Regions from separate parts of the Homo sapiens genome. Here region 1 is linked to region 2. The links come from fine-mapping of genetic effects on gene expression. A gene starts in region 2. The other region holds a variant in brackets. All regions are shown on one strand. Distances are between the middles of the regions. Region 1 overlaps KLHL18 (kelch like family member 18). Region 2 holds the start of ELP6 (elongator acetyltransferase complex subunit 6).

What was found. PIP is the estimated chance that this variant, and not a neighbour inherited with it, causes the effect.
Region 1: its variant is the best candidate, but not a certain one, in a credible set for the expression of ELP6 in whole blood (TOPMed, PIP 0.51).

The regions. Positions count from the first base shown.
Region 1 is chr3:47,318,287-47,321,199 of GRCh38, forward strand. KLHL18 (kelch like family member 18) reads left to right here. Exons shown (of 10, transcript NM_025010.5): 2 at 1,367-1,497. Among named protein-coding and RNA genes, the nearest start is that of KLHL18, 37 kb to the left of the region's middle. The variant G/T (reference allele first, on the strand shown) is at 1,306.
Region 2 is chr3:47,512,631-47,515,478 of GRCh38, forward strand. ELP6 (elongator acetyltransferase complex subunit 6) reads right to left here and starts at 1,082. Exons shown (of 7, transcript NM_001031703.3): 1 at 907-1,082. The coding sequence starts at 960. RefSeq lists enhancers at 497-606, 937-1,046.

The sequences.
Region 1 (2,913 bases), 190 kb before region 2:
GAGGATGCTCTTCCAAGCTCACTCAGGTAGCTGTAGAAGTCTTCAGTCTTCTTCATATGGGCCTCTCTTAAGGATATGTTATTTAGCTTCTCTTAGAGCAAGTGATCCAGAAGAAGAGGGTAAGAGGAATTTCAGTGCCTTTTATGACCTAGCTTTGAATGTGACATACCATCGTCACTTCTGCTATATTCTGTTGGTCACATAGACCAACCCTGACATGTTGTGGGAGGGGACTGCACAAGGGTGTAAATACCAAGAGTGAGCATTTACTGGGAGCTATTTAGAGGTTGGGTACCACAGGGAATAACTCAAAGTGAAAAGTCAACAAGTAATATGTAAGCACATATTATTTAGAAAGATGGAGAAAAGTCCTAGAAGCAAGAGGTTGCCCCTGGGAGTAGGAATCGCGGGCAAGGAATCAAGAAAACAGAGACTGCTAGTTGTTGTTTTTTCTTTTGTAATAAACCTCATAGAACAACTCTAAGAAATTTGAGCAGAGGCTGGGTGCGGTGGCTCACGCCTGTTTAATCCAATGATTCGATCTTCCAACCTCAATCCTTGGATAAATATGACACAAAGAGATGACCATCAGATAGTGAGATTCCCTGGCTTTTCACTAATGTGGAACCTGATAAAAAGGAAAAAAGGACTGTTTTGCTCTTCCTGGAGAATAGAAAGTTCTTAAGTGGAAATGTTTATATAGCTTGGAGCTATAAATGGCTTATTGAAGGGAAGAGCCTTTTGGCAGATAGTTGGAAAACACTTTATAGAATTCCTCAGGCTAAGGGTGTGTCAGTGAGGATTTGACACTCATTGGAGGAAGAGTTGGCCTCTGTCCCTGCTAGCCATACAGAGCAGCAGCCAGTCCACAACACCAGTGTATCTCCTCATGCCCCTGCCTCCGGCCCAGTCACTACATATTTACTCTTCTTGAGGAGCATACTGTTAGGAGCACCAGCATTCTTGGACCATTTGTCTAGTCCATCTGCCTGAGGTTGGGATAAAGTGTTACAGGAATCAGGTATTTGAGTTGGTGGAGTAGCTGAAAGGGGTGCATTGGAGACTACCATATAAGTAAAAACGATTACATGAAACCATTCAGGCTTAAATTTTTTAGCTGTTTTAACGCTTCATTAAAATGTATTGTTTACATTCTTCTACTGTAACTGAGTATATTGCATTTAAAATACTTCAGGGTCATCATGCTAAGCCTTGGCCTCCATGCCCTGGGATGCCTTCACCGCCTTTGCAGTGGGCAGTGGGGTATGCTGTGGAGCCGGGCGGAGGGGCAGGGTGGGTTTTTTT[G/T]TTTGTTTGTTTTTGTTTTGCATTCCTCAATATCTGTCTTTGTATTTTACTTTGCCCACAGATTGGGGACCACAAATTCAGTGCCCACCGGATTGTCTTAGCAGCCTCGATCCCGTATTTCCATGCTATGTTTACAAATGACATGATGGAGTGCAAGCAGGATGAGATTGTAATGCAAGGAATGGACCCAAGGTACTGAATCCCACCATTAGGTTTCGCAGGCTGCTTTCCAAGTGCAGTTTCAGCCTGTGCACGGTTCCGTTGAGGACCTGCAGCAGGACACAGTGTCTAATAGCCTAGCTCTACACAAATAATAAGTGATTAATAAGCAGATTAGAACCTGGGCCAGTGGTCTGAGATAGGGTTAAAATGAAGGGAGTTTTGATGGGGCTGTTTTTACCTTACTATAAGAGAAATACATTTAATAGGACCTAGACTCCATGATTTTTTTTTTTTTTTTTGACTGGGGCTGGGTTTAAGAGTGGTGGTATATTATTCTCTGCACTTTTCTGGGCTAGTCATTTTAGCTGACAAAACAGTTCTTCAAATAAGTGTCTTCATTTACATCCCTTCTTATCAGTCTAGAACAGTGTTGTCCACTGGAGGTTTCTGCAGTGATGCAAATGTTCTTTCTATTTGTATTGCCCAAAATGGTAGCCACTAGACACAGATGGCTATTGAGCACTCGAAATACGACTAGTGGGACTGAAGAACTGAATTTTAAATTTTGTTTAATTTTAATCAATTTAATTTTAAAGTTAAATAGTCACATGTGGCTAATGGCTACTATATTAGACAACACAGGTTTAGAAGGTGGCAGATCTTATGGTTATTTCATGGTTCAGAAAATTGAAGCTCAAGGAGATCAAGCCCAAGGTTATCCCCTTAGCTGGTAGTCAGTTATTGCCCAACCTCTTAATCTGACAGTGGTGACAACTAGGGGGAAAAGAGCTAGGAGACTGTGTGTTACCCTCTAGATGATCAAAGTGCCCCAATACCGGAAGAGGATTTATATACCCATGGCAAGGTAGAAATCTCAGGTCAGGCCAGGCAAGGTGGCTCACACCTGAAATCCAAACAATTTGGGAGGTCAAGGCGGGAGGATTGCTTGAGGCTAGGAGTTCAAGACCAGCCTGGACAACATAAACCACATCTTTATAAAAAAAAATTGTTTTTAATTAGCTGGGCATGGTGGTGCACACCTGTAGTCTCAGCTACTTAGAAAGCTGAGGTAGGAGGTGAGCCGAGGAAGTCAAGGCTGCCGCGAGCTGTGATCACACCACTACACTCCAGCCTGGGCAACAGAGTGAGACCTTGACTCTTGAAAAAGAAAGAAAGAAATCTTAGGCCAGTTACTTATGAGGAAAGACGTAGAAGTAAGGTGTCCAAGGGCAGTTGTGCCCTCCTATTCTCTGAGGTGTGTGTCTGAAGGAGGCATGCTCGTCCCATGAATAGTCCAGGGGCTTCATTTAACAGAGATTGCCTGAACATCCATGATGAGCACAGCTCTATCAAATATCTGAGGTATAGCAGTGAGAAAACAGCACCTCTTCTCATTCTGCCAACCTTTTTTTTGGGGGGAGTGGAGGGGGAGGCAATGGAGTCTCA
Region 2 (2,848 bases):
GGTACCCCGGAGTGTGAGGAGGGTGGAGAGAACAGGCCAGCCTGGGGTGCCCAAGACGGACTTGGTCCAAGCCAATTTGGCTCTGTCCTGCTTCTAACAGTTCTATTAGAGATCACAAGGAGGAAGAGTAAGAAGAACAGCAGCGTTCAATACAATGTGCCAATTGCTCCGGGGCGAGGTGGCGGTTAGGAAGCTCGCCCATGAAGACGGCGGCGAAACGAACTCCCCTCTCCTCTCGGGCCTATTCTGCAGTCTCCTCTGAGCGCCTGGGACCCCCCACCCCAGTGAACATGCACAGCGCGCCACAGTTCACGTCCGCGAATATAACCCAACCCCACTGTCGGCCATGCTTCCCAGGTACTTTTTTTTTTTTTTTTTGAGGTGGAGTCCCGCTCTGTCGCCCAGGCTGGAGTGCGGTGGCGAGATCTCGGGTCACTGCAACCTCCGCCTCCCGGGTTCAAGCAATTCTCCTGTCTCAGCCTCCCGAGTAGCTGAGATTACAGGCATGAGCCACCACGCCCGGCTAATTTTTGTATTTTTCGTAGAGACGGGGGTTTCACCATCTTGGCCAGACTTGTCTCGAACTCTTGACCTTAGATGATGCACCCGCCTCGGCCTCCCAAACTGCTGGGATTACAGGGGTGAGCCACCGCGCCCGGCCGCTTCCCAGGGACTTTTAAGGACACGCACAGCCGTTGAGAATATGCGAGATGGCCCAGAAGCCCACTTTCGGCGGGCCCAAGCCTCCAGTCCAATCCCCGGGTCGATCCTCTGCGGACTACAACTCCCAGGTACCCCGTGCCGGGTCGTCGCGCCATTCCCCGGGGTCGTGCGCACCGCCTCCCGGATGCAGTATTCCGCTGCCCTGCCAGGTCCCGCCCCCTTCCGGCCAGCGGGACCTCTTACCTGCTCCGCCCTGTCGGGGGTGGTGTTAAGCAGGTTATTAAGTTCCACGAACATTCCGAGCTCCTGGGACTAGCGCTCTGGAGGAGAACCCGGAGTGCTGCAGAGACGACGGAGGCTGGAGAGCAAAACACACCCGACAGCCCGGCTCGCGCAAGGAAGCGCGCATGCGCAATGCCACTTTTGCGAGCCAGCCACAGCCAATGAGGCGGGTGCCTCGATGGGACCGCTGCGCACGCGCGTAGACGTCCGTCGAGTCCCAGGTGGTAGGAAACGATGGGCTTCTCTGTGCGACTGCCAGCGGCCTCTGGCGGCTCATTCCGCGCAGATCTGCGTGGCGCCCGAGCCCTCCCAGTGGGCCCCCAAGGCTCCACGCGACCGAGTATTCTTCTTCCCTTGGCCTCGCTCTCTGCCCAGCCCCGGGCTCCTTTTCTCCACACGTGGCTGTCAAGCGCCTTCTGTATGCCCCACACTCCTGGGAGCTTGGGCTACATCGATGAACAAAAACAAAGGACAGGGAATTTATTATTATTATTATTATTATTATTATTATTATTATTATTTAATTGAGACGGAGTCTTGCCCTGTCGCCCAGGCTGGAGTGCAGTGGCGCGATCTCGGCTCACTACAGTCTCCGCCTCCTGGGTTCACGCCATTCTCCTGCCTCAGCCTCCCGAGTGTAGCTGGGACTACAGGCGCCCGCCACCACGCCCGGCTAATTTTTTGTATTTTTAGTAGAGACGGGGTTTCACCGTGTTAGCCAGGATGGTCTTGATCTCCCGACCTCGTGATCCGCCGGCCTCGGCCTCCCAAAGTGCTGGGATTACAGGCATGAGCCACCACGCCCGGCCGACACGGAATTATATCTTGAAAAGTTGTGTGGAGAAAAGCAAAGTGGGATTAGAGAGTACCAATGGGGGCAGGGGTAGGTTCCAGAATTAAAGAGGTTGTCAGGGTGGGTCTCACTAAGAAAGTGTGGTTGCGGCTGGGCGCGGTGGCTCACACCTGTAATGCCAGCACTTTGGGAGGCCTAGACGGAGGGATCACGAGGTCAGGAGTTCGAGACTAGCCTGGCCAATATAGTGAAACCCCCTTCTCTATTAAAAATACAAAAAATTAGCCTGGCGTGGTGGGGGGCGCCTGTCATCCCAGCCACTCGGGAGGCTGAGCCAGTAGAATCGCTTGAACCTGGGAGGCAGAGGTTGCAGTAAGCCGAGATCACGCCATTGCTCTCTAGCCTGGGCAGCAGTGTGAGACTTCGTTAAAAAACAGTGTGGTTGCAACACGCCCTGTATGCCTGTCCTCAGAGCCTTTATACTAACTCTTCCCTCTTCCTGGAATGCCCCTTTTCCCAGATATTAAGCTGATTTTAAAATTCCCCACTTCCTTCAGGTCTCTGCTCCGATGTCACTTTATTCGTGAGGCCTTCCCTGAGCACCTTACTTAAATCACAAACTGTCCCTTTCCCAACACTTCTTTTTCCTTGCTTTTATTTTTTTCCATAACATTTATATCTATTATACCGTATATAGTTTTGTTCTAGCCCAATCAGCCTCAGATCAGTGGACAAACCTGTAATTCCACCAAAGTCAAGTTTATTGACAGTCACTAAAATAATTGTTATATGATTTGGGAAAGAGTCGAATTCAGGTGAAATTTAAGTGAACCGGTGTTTGATATGCTCAAAGCACAGCACAGCTGTGTGTGGAGTCCTAATCTGGCGTGGACTGCAAAGGGGACCCAGGGTCATTTCTGTGGAAACTACAAGGTTAAGATCGATGTGGAATGTAATCGTTAGCTGAAGCTCTGCACCTGGGATGGAAATCAAGGCTGCTTCTCTGTGTCAAAGGGATGTAGATCCTTCAGCCAAGAATGAGATGTTTCATGCTTATTGAAATGTGAGAAAGAGAAAAAAAAATTGGCCTGACACTCACAGCTAGGTCTT